Linked DNA regions of Homo sapiens: region 2 is linked to region 1. Evidence: fine-mapped expression QTL. A gene starts in region 1. The other region holds a variant in brackets. All regions are shown on one strand. Distances are from middle to middle.

What was found.
Region 2: its variant is fine-mapped to the expression of LINC00339 in NK cells (Gilchrist 2021, PIP 0.95).

The regions. Positions count from the first base shown.
Region 1 is chr1:22,023,110-22,028,629 of GRCh38, forward strand. It overlaps LINC00339 (long intergenic non-protein coding RNA 339), which reads left to right and starts at 2,082. Exons shown (of 2, transcript NR_023918.2): 1 at 2,082-2,263. It overlaps LINC01635 (long intergenic non-protein coding RNA 1635), which reads right to left and starts at 2,939. Exons shown (of 3, transcript NR_110692.1): 1 at 2,855-2,939; 2 at 1,697-1,857; 3 at 885-1,336. RefSeq lists enhancers at 2,367-2,968, 2,580-2,689, 2,767-3,061.
Region 2 is chr1:22,091,677-22,096,676 of GRCh38, forward strand. It overlaps CDC42 (cell division cycle 42), which reads left to right. Exons shown (of 6, transcript NM_001791.4): 6 at 1-5,000. Among named protein-coding and RNA genes, the nearest start is that of CDC42, 41 kb to the left of the region's middle. The variant C/A (reference allele first, on the strand shown) is at 2,271.

The DNA of each region.
Region 1 (5,520 bases):
GTGCCCGGGGTCGGGGGATAGAGGAGGTGGGCAGAAAAGGAGACGCTACAGTTGAACTGGAACCTGGGTGAACAGATCTCAGGAAAGAGCACTGCAAGCAGAGATCAGCAAAAGAAGTGAAGATGAGGCCGGGTGCGATGGCTCACGCCTGTAATCCCAGCACTTTGGGAAGCCGAGGTGGGTGGATCGCTTGAGGTCAGGAGTTCGAGACCAGCCTGGGGAACATGGCAAAACCCTGTCTCTACTAAAAATACAAAAATTAGCTGGACAGGGTGGTGCAAGTCTGTAATCTGAACTACTTGGGAGGCTAAGGCAAGAGAATCACTTCAACCCAGGAGGTGGAAGTTGCAGTGAGCTGAGATCATGCCACTGCATTCCAGCCTGGGTGACAGAATGAGACTCTGCCTCAAAAAAAGGCTGGGCGTGGTGGCTCACACCTGTAATCCCAGCACTTTGGGAGGCTGAGGTGGGCGGATCACCTGAGGTCAGGAGTTCGAGACCAGCCTGGCCAATATGGCGAAACCCCGTCTCTACTAAAAGTACAAAAAATTAGCCGGGTGTGGTGGCTCGTGCCTGTAATCCCAGTTACTCGGGAGGCTGAGGCAGGAGAATCGCTTGAATCCGGGAGGCAGAGGTTGCAGTGAGTCGAGATCACACCATTGCACTCCAGCTTAGACAACAAGAGCGAAACTCCGTCTCAAAAAAAAAAAAAAAAAAAAAAAAGAAGTGAAGATGAGCTTGTCAGATTGTCAGATTTGCAAAATAGCCAGAAGGTCAGTGTTCTTGGAGCAAACTGAGTGAGCAGGAGGGTGGGGAAAGATGAAGCACAAAGGCTGAATTTTACCTGGGATGATAAAATAATCTTACACAAGCCGAAACGTATATACTTTCACATAAATTTATGTGCCTATGAAATTGGAGTTGCTCTGGGACTCAAGCGGCATCCTTGCCCCAACCCCTGCTGTTTTCTGAAGCATTCCTAAGGAACCTTAGAGTGTGGGAGAGAGAAATAGCAGGAAGTCCTTAACCTAGTCCAACCCTTTTATTTTACAGTTAGGGAAACCTAAGCTGAGAGAGGAGATGGAAACCTGGTTGTAGGAGTGAGTGGGGAAGGGTTCACGGTCATTCTGGTAGGTAGGGGTAGGGCCAGAGCAAGGAGTCCTGGTTTGTGAACCACCAGCTGGCCGTCTAGGAGTTTACAGACCAGCAGTGGCAATGTTGACAAAGGGCATATCTTCCTTTCCCCAAGAACATTGGCTCTGGAGCAATAACCCAGCAATGGGGGCTTTGGGGTGTCCCTCTTAATCCGGTAGCTCAGCCCATTCGGATATGCCAGCTGGAAAGAGAGAGGGAGAAGTCAACTGAGTACCTCTCTCTAACAGCTCAATCCCTCCCCTTCAGGGTTAAGATCGGGGCTGCAGTGGTTAGCATCTCTGCTTCCTCTAGCCGGCTGTGTCATTGAACCTGTGTGATCAGACGCAAACCAGATCAGTATGACTTCAAAGCTTCATCTTTGAGATGGAGTCTTGCTCCCTCGTCCGGGCTGGAGTGCAATGGCGCAATCTCGGCTCACTGCAACCTCCGCCTCCCGGGTTCAAGCAATTCTCCTGTCTCAGTCTCCCGAGCAGCTGGGACTATAGGCGCCTGCCAGCACGCCCGGCTAATTTTTGTATTTTTAGTAAAGACTGAGTTTCACCTTGTTGGTCAAGCTGGTCTCGAACTCGTGACCTCAGGTGATCCACACGCCTCTGCCTCCTAAAGTGCTGGGATTACAGGCGTGAGCCACCGCGCACGGCTAAAGCTTCAGTTCTTAACCATCAGGCGACAGTGCGTAGTCTGGTAGCAACTGGAAAAGTCCTGCTGAGATTTAGCCTCCCATACACACAGAGTCCCACCCCGGACAGGCTGTATCAACCCCCCACGGCCATATGCCCACTGCTGTTTGCGTACAATGAGGCGGGACCTATAGACTGTATCCACTGACTCATCTGGAGTGATTCCGCGGGGCGCCAATACAAGGACCACTGTCTCCAAACAGCAGCCAGCCACCCCTCTCTCTTGGTTTCCTTCCTTTGAGTGGTGCAAAGGCTTAAGGGTGTAACCTCAGAATGGGGCCCTGAATCAGCTGTGGGCGAGCTCCTAGAGTATCTTAATTCCTGCTTCATCTCTTTCCATTTTGCAGTTGGGCAAACTGCGGCTCAGAAAGATAAAGAACTTCTCCGGAGCGAAAAAGCTGCTAAGAATGTATCCAAAACTCCGCACGGTAAGGACTGAGGACGGTCAAAAGACCACCAAGAGTTAAAACCATGAAGCTGCGTAGTACCGCGGAGGCTAGAGAGACCCGGCCCACCCCTTCCAACCTATGCCCCTCCTCTTAACTTCCGGGCGGGGCATGACTTCCGGTTCCCGCGCGGCGCTCCAAAGCTCGGGGAGTGGTGGTCTCCCTTTCCTGGAGTCATTTGTGGGAGTTAGGGTCTTATCCTGATCTTTCCTCGTCCCCCGCTCCCCCGTCCTCCGAGGTGGCAGCTGCGTAGGTGAACGTTCCCCCTGTCCCCTTCCTTCTCCTTCCTAACCCGAGTACGCTTGCTCGCGGCCACAGTGGCTGCCTGCCCCAGGAGCGGGGAGTCCCTGCCTTTGGGGTAGGGAAATGACTGAAATGTGGGACCTGCGGGCTCCTCGGGCTGACTTGGACCTCACTGCAGCTCTGGAGGTGGACCTCGTCCTGGGACCCTAGAAGCCCATTTCCGCACTCGGGCTAGGCCTTCGGAGCCGCGGCAGCATAGTGGGAGGAGTCGGGCTCAGCTCCCCCCCACCACAACCGGGATTATTTTTATCGGTTGAGTCATCGCACTACCTTTCATCCTTGTGGCTTTGGGCAAGTCCCCGCCCTCCGAGCCTCACTTTGCTTATCTGTGAATGGAAATAACAGTGCCTACCCCATGGGCTATCGGGAGGATCAGTTGTGAGGGAATGCAGTGTGGGGTGTCTGGCCGGCAGAATTCCACAAATGGTAGCAGCGGTTGATGTCACTGGAGGTTCCTGGGGCAGTAATTTATCAAGAGTTTATGATCCTGAACTAAGGATCATACGGAGGAGGATCTGTGTATAACGTTCGGCACAATGTTAGATAGGAAGTAAGGGCGCAGTGCACTGGAGTTATTTTTTCTTTTTTTTTTTTTTGAGACGGAGTCTCGCTCTGTCGCCCAGGCCGGAGTTGCAGTGCCGCGTTGTCGCCTCACTGCAACCTTCTCTGCCACATGGGTTCAAGCGATTCTCCTGCCTCAGCCACTCGAGTAACTGGGATTACAGTCGCACATCACCACGCCTGGCTAATGTTTTGCATTTTTAATAGAGACGGTTTCACCATGTTGGCCAGCCTGGTCTTGAACTCCTGATCTCAGGTGATCCACCCGCCTCGGCCTTCCAAAGTGCTAGAAGTATAGGCATGAGCCACTGTGCCTGGCCTGGAGTTATTTTTTCTCACTGGGTTTTTGAGCAAAGAAAAGGAGTTATTAACTGGTGAGGATAAATTTGTGTTTGGTAAGTCGTCTTCTGAAGCTGACAGGATTTATAAGCCGGGTAAATTGTGGTGCTGGTTCATCTTTGAGAGCCAGCCTTAAGAATTGGCCCACTGACTGCTGGGCGTGGTGGCTCACATCTGTAATCCCAGCACTTTGGGAGGCCGAAGCGGGTGGATCACCCGAAGTCAGGAGTTCGAGACCAGCCTGGTCAACATGGTGAAACCCCATCTCTACTAAAAACATAAAAATTAGCCAGGTATGGTGGTGGGCACCTGTAATCCCAGTTACTCGGGAGGCTGAGGCAGAGAATTGCTTGAACCCAGAAGGAGGAAAGGTTGCAGTGAACCGAGATCACACTACTGCACTCCAGCCTGAGCGACAGAGTGAGACTTGTCTCAAAAAAAAAAAAAAGGAAAGAAAAAGGCCCACTGACAGTCTGTTCCTAGAAACCTGGGTTGTAAAGACGTTGGGTGCTGGGAGCTAGAAGAAGTAATAAAAGGGTGTTTTCCTAAGTGGGTTAGGGGTTTTCACTCAGAAAGGTTTTTGGGCAGGAGGGGAAAGCCTGAGAAGTTTTCTTCCTCTTGAGTTGTTATAAAAGTAATACATGTGTGTAGTTAGAAAACAATGCAGAAAGATGTAAAATGAAAAGTGTTTCCCCCTTCTACTGTTTCTGCCCTTCAGAAGTAAATACAATTAATTTCTTTGATAACTTTCTATCTATTATTTGGATATATCAGGTTTTATTTATTTGTATCTGTATTTATGTATTTTTAATTTCCTCAGATCGGGGGTCATACTACACATCGATCGGGACCTTAGTCATGTTGTGATATGGACAGCTTTCTTACCAGTACTCATAAGCCTGCTTCATTTTTTACGTGGCGGCACCACTGAGTGGTTGACGGTACTTCAGTCATTTCCCTGTTGATGGTCACTTAGGTTGTTCCCAAGATTTTGCTTTCCCACAGTGTTTCACCCAACCTTTCTTGGACGAAATATTTTAGTCCAACTCACCCTAAGTGATTCTGCTTTTCCCTATTCACCACCCTAGGTTAGTAACAGCTTACTTTGGGGGATGAGCACACCTTATTAACTGAGCAAAAACCAAGATAATGTGAGAAGAATTGGTGTACTCCCAAGAATATCCAAGGTGCTGGGTCTAGAATCAATTAAAGTCTCCTAAGAAATGGGTCAGGGAACCTTTAGAGAAGGGATGACTAGGTGCTGGGTGCACGGCAGCTAGTCAGCGTTAGTGATTGTTGGCTTCTGTCAATTGTTGCTCAGGAAACAGATTTGAGAGATTCTCTGAGGTGGGAAGGATTTTAAATGTCAGCTCTCCTGCTATGTATTATATGTCTGGAAGGGATTAGTTCTTTGAGGGAAGAGAGTATTAAAGAAAACAATGGGCCGGGCACGGTGGCTCACACCTGTAATCCCAGCACTTTGGGAGGCCGAGGCAAGGGCGGTGGATCATGAGGTCAGGAGATCGAGACCATCCTGGCTAACATGGTGAAACCTCATTTCTACTAAAAATACAAAAAAAAATTAGCTGGGCCTGGTGGCACGTGCCGTAGTCCCAGCTACTCAGGAGGCTGAGGCAGGAGGATTGCTTGAACCTGGGAGGCAGAGGTTGCAGTGAGCCGAGATTGTGCCTGGGCAACAGAGCAAGACTCCGTCTCAAAAAAAAAAAAAAAAAAAAGAAAATGATGATCCTTGAAAAGTGACTGCATCATGGGGCTGTATCCTAATGTGAGAATTAATTTAGTCATTTCTGTTATTTGAACTCTCTTGTTTTAAAGTTAATTAACATAGGATGTGTTTTCCTGTAAATAACTCCTCTTTTGAACTGGGGCCCTAGCCCAAATGAAGCAAAGGCTTTTTTTCTGGCATTTTACAGGTATTTAATTTGCCTCCCGCCCCGCCGCCCCCCACGGCTATAGCTGGTTTGATAATCCTGGAGCTCTCAAATATCCAAAGAGTTGGAAGTGTACTCTATTAG
Region 2 (5,000 bases), 68 kb after region 1:
ATGGCCCCCCCCTTCCCCCTCCCAGTACTAGTTAATTTTGAGTAATTGTATTGTCAGAAAAGTGATTAGTACTATTTTTTTTTGTTGTTTCAAAAAAAAAATTTTTGTGTGTGTGTGTTTTTTTTTTTTTTTTTTTTGTTGTTTAAAAGCAAGGCATGCTTGTGGATGACTCTGTAACAGACTAATTGGAATTGTTGAAGCTGCTCCCTGGTTCCACTCTGGAGAGTAATCTGGGACATCTTAGTGTTTTGTTTTGTTTTTTTCCCTCCTCTTTTTTTTGGGGGGGAGTGTGTGTGGGGTTTGTTTTTTAGTCTTGTTTTTTTAATTCATTAACCAGTGGTTAGCCCTTAAGGGGAGGAGGACGGATTGATTCCACATTCCACTTCCTAGATCTAGTTTAGAAAACATGTTCCCCATCTGGTGCTCTTAGGAAGGAGTATAGTAAATGCCTCATTTAATAACATACTCCTTTTTGAAAGTTGCCTTTTCTCTCCACCCTTGAGTAGATCCAGTATTTGATGAAACTCATGAAAGTGGGTGGAGCCCATCTTGCCCCTCCTCTTTTCTAGGACGCACTATATGTGACTGTGACTTTCAAGGACATTTGTTTGCCATTTGCTGATTTTTTTGGGAAGTTAATTTCTAACTTCTTTCACTGATAAATGAAGAAAAGTATTGCACCTTTGAAATGCACCAAATGAATTGAGTTTGTAATTAAAAAAATTTTTTTCCCTTTCAGTCATTGTCTTATATGCTTAGCATAGATTTGCAGCTCAGTAGTATATGGTGTTCCTAGAATGCAGCTGAAGACCTGTTATGTAGAGGAAATACGAGGGGTGGTGCTAGAAGACAGACATCTGTGGAATGATTCACATCCTCTCAAGTTAGGAGGATGGAGGCCTGCTTCATTAAGAAGCTGGGGGTAGGGTGGGGGTGGGGAGAACACTTAACAACATGGGGACCAGTCAGGGGAATCCCCTTATTTCTGTTTTGCATATGAGGAACCCTAGAGCAGCCAGGTGAGGCTCTCTAGTTTAATAAAAATCATGGAAAGACTCTTAATGCAGACTCTTCTTAAGTGTTAATAGGGATTTTTTCAGCTTATTTTGGTTGCAGTTTCCAATTTTTAAAAATGTTGAGGTAATCTTTCCCACCTTCCCAAACCTAATTCTTGTAGATGCATTAGTGTTGAACCAATGCTTTCTCATGTCTCAATTCTTTGTATATGCATTCTTTTCAGATGTATTAAACAAACAAAAACCCTTCACAAGCCAGCCTGAGGGTTGTTATTTTCCCTCCGTCTCTTACTTTTCAGATATTGAGGAGTGGGAATTTGACTCTTGATAACATCAATTTCTAACAAACTTTGGGATAAAATTTTAAAGCTTTATTATTTTTATTTTCTGGCATTTTAGTTTGAGATAATATTTAGCCCTCTATATGTTCAGGTTTGTGCTTTCTCCTCTAAGTTTGACCCTTCCCTTAAATACCAAGTAGGTCCATAATAATTCTTAGTGAAGCAGTGTTCAGGAAGCTCACTGCTCATGGTGGAAGGAAATGTCAGTGTACCTTTAATCCATAGATCATTGAAAAGCAGCTCATTTTCCCCCAAGTTTTCTGCATCAGTGGTTCTCCAACTGGAGTGCAGCTTGAACAATGTGATTTTTAAGTTTTCCAGGCATTTCTAAAATGTAGCCAAGTTTGGGAATCACCACACCTAGTTGGTTATCTCAAACTACTACTATCAGAATACAGGTTCTGTGCTGCGAATCTGAATATGGGATACATTTTCTTTAGGTAGCAAGAAAGGTTTATTTACCTTTAGGACATTATACTGATCTGCATGAGAATCTTAGAAACTAAGAACCCTTAAAATCAGTTAAGGTTGGTACACTGTGGCCTCATTTTGATAGTTCTCTGCATGGAGTCATGTTTGGCATGATTTGCATACTGTGCTAGAATTAAGCTGGGTTGGTTGAGAAGGGGTTAGGAAGAGGCAGATGTAAGCTTTAACAGTTCTAACCAAGAAATGCATCTTATTTATTCCTTGTTGACTATACTAGGGAGAGATACCTGGATCATGTGATACCCTGGAAAGCAGGGACATATGTATCCTTAGTGTAGTCAGGGGCGTATAGGTCCTTGACTATTGCTATATCTTTGTCCTAAAGCAATGCTTGACATGATATGGCTCTAGAAGTAGTCATTGGATGGGTATATTATTTTATAAATGAGTAAGTGAAATAAAGCAGGTCATACAGTTGTGTCAA[C/A]GAATTATCCGTGTATCAGAAGAACAAGGATGATGGGGATTGATTGAAGCTAATGTTTTCTTAAATATTTTCAGATTGATTTCTGCATGTCAGAAGAACTTGGGTAGCAAGTGGATGCAGCTTAGGTTTTCCATTTAAATATTGTTTTCTATTTGACGTAACAAACTTGCTTATAGTCGTGGCTTAGAAGGTGAGTGATATTCTCCAGGGAGTATGATTTAGAGGCTGGAAAGGGTTATTGAAAATAGTCCTTACAGGCTTAGTTTGTGTCAGAATTTATAGTATTTAATACGATGTTAATATATTATTGCTATTTATAAGTGTTTTACTGAACATCCTAGAAATAGATTTTTTTTTTTTTTTTTTTTTGAGACGGAGTCTCGCTCTGTCGCCCAGGCTGGAGTGCAGTGGCGCGATCTCGGCTCACTGCAAGCTCCGCCTCCCGGGTTCACGCCATTCTCCTGCCTCAGCCTCCCGAGTAGCTGGGACTACCGGCGCCCGCTACCACGCCCGGCTAATTTTTTGTATTTTTAGTAGAGACGGGGTTTCACCGTGTTAGCCAGAATGGTCTCGATCTCCTGACCTCGTGATCCGCCCGCCTCGGCCTCCCAAAGTGCTGGGATTACAGGCGTGAGCCACCGCGCCCGGCCAGAAATAGATTTTATAGTTAAAGCGATGTTCTTCAAGCTGGACTTTATGCCACAAGGGGAGTGTATTCTAAAGGGGAAGAAAAGGATTGTGGTTTAAAAGAACAATTGTAATATTTCCTTCATTCTGAGGTGTATTTTTCTCACATTTTCATATTGTAATTAGGATACCTGTTAACATTGGTGTACATTTAATGTAGTAGTACTTTTTCTCCTTTTGCCCTGCAAGTTGTCACTAAATTTGTGCTATCATAATTGTTACCTTCATAGAATGCTTAAATAGTGGTACTTCTTTGACTTGTTAGGTTTGGACTATTTTCCTTTTCTTCTTCCATTTGTGAGGTAAATTAGTGGTTATTTTGGTGCTGGGTGCTAAGAAACTCGCAAAACAAGGGCCCTGCTCAAGAAGGATTGAAACTTAGTCCTTGCTGGGTACAAATTTAGAAATTTGTTATATAACTGTGGGGCAAGGGACAACATTTCACCAGGAAGTAGCAACTCCATCATCTTTCAGGAAGGGCTGATGGTTAGGGCATCTCTGAATGATTATTGGAGGGAAGTGGCTTTATGTCACACTTGTTTTCTGTAAGTCTTACTCTGTATCTACCCGACTTCAGATCATGGTGATTTAATTACATGGCCCAATCATGTTTTCTTTCCAGGGCTGCTTGAATGCTTGAATACTTTTTTTTTTGAGATGGAGTCTCGTTCTGTCGCCCAGGCTGGAGTGCAGTGGTGCAATCTCGGCTCATTGCAAGCTCCGCCTCCCGGGTTCACACCATTCTCCTGCCTCAGCCTCCCGAGTAGCCAGGACTACAGGCATGTGCCACCATGCCTGGCTAATGTTTTGTATTTTTAGTAGAGATAGGGTTTCACCATGTTAGCCAGGATGGTCTCGATCTCCTGACCTCGTGATCCGCCCGCCTTGGCCTCCCAAAGTGCTAGGATTACAGGCGTGAGCCACCGCGCCTGGCCAGAATGAATACTTTTAATTACTACTATGAGTCTTTTTTCAAAGTGCCTCCACCTTAAAAAAAATTCCTTATTTTATTCACTTGCCAGAATAATGTTGCATTTGAACCATGCCAACGGTAGCTTATTAAAACAGCATTTATTTTTCTCATTCATGGGTCAGCTGAACTTGTCTCTAGCCTTCAGATTGGGCTCAGGTGGGCTTTGTGTTTGTCATTCTGGAGCCTAGTTCCAGAGAGCAGTGGCTGCTTGAGTGTGGACTTGCTTATGGTGGGCCAAAGAGGGGCAAGGGAAAGCGCATTTACACTTTCTCGTATTCCATTGCCCAGAGATGGCATATAGCCGATCCCAAGTCAGTGCTATTCATTCATTTTTTTAAAAAAATTTATTTATTTATTTATTTATTTATTTTCAGACGGGGTCTTGCACTGTTGCCCGGGCTGGAGTGCAGTGGTGGCATCTCCGCTCACTGCAACCTCCACCTCCCAGGTTCACATGATTCTCCTGCCTCAGCCTCCTGAGTAGCTGGGATTACAGGTGTCTGCCACTGCGCCCGGCTAATTTTTTGTATTTTTAAGGGAGACTGGGTGTCACTATGTTGGCCAGACAGATCTCAAACTCCTGACCTCCTGATCCGCCCTCCTCAGCCTCCCAAAGTGCTGGGATTATAGGCATGAGTCACTGCGCCCGGCCTATTCATTCATTCTTACAGTGAATTAGTAAATTCAACAAATAGGTTTTTTTAAAGCAATTAAGGCACTGAGGATATACAGAGAGTAAAATAGATGTCTCCTGACTTCTACTTGGAATTTTCTTTCCCTTACAGTTTTGATAGCTGCTTTCTCTTGAATAACTATGTCATCTCTTTCCACTTTGCATTGCTCCCAAGAGAGTAATGTAAAAGTTTTATCTGTGCATGCATATTCATGACACATTCATTTGTCATTATTTATCAAAAACCTGTTCCCTTCCCTGGCACTGGAGACATTGGAGAATGACAGTCTCAAGCAGTGCAGAGATGTAAGCAGGCAGAGGTAAGGACTTTGGTCTCAATAGCCTACAGGGTGCTTCATCCACTCACTGTATTCTGTGTGCCTGTGCCGCGGTGCAG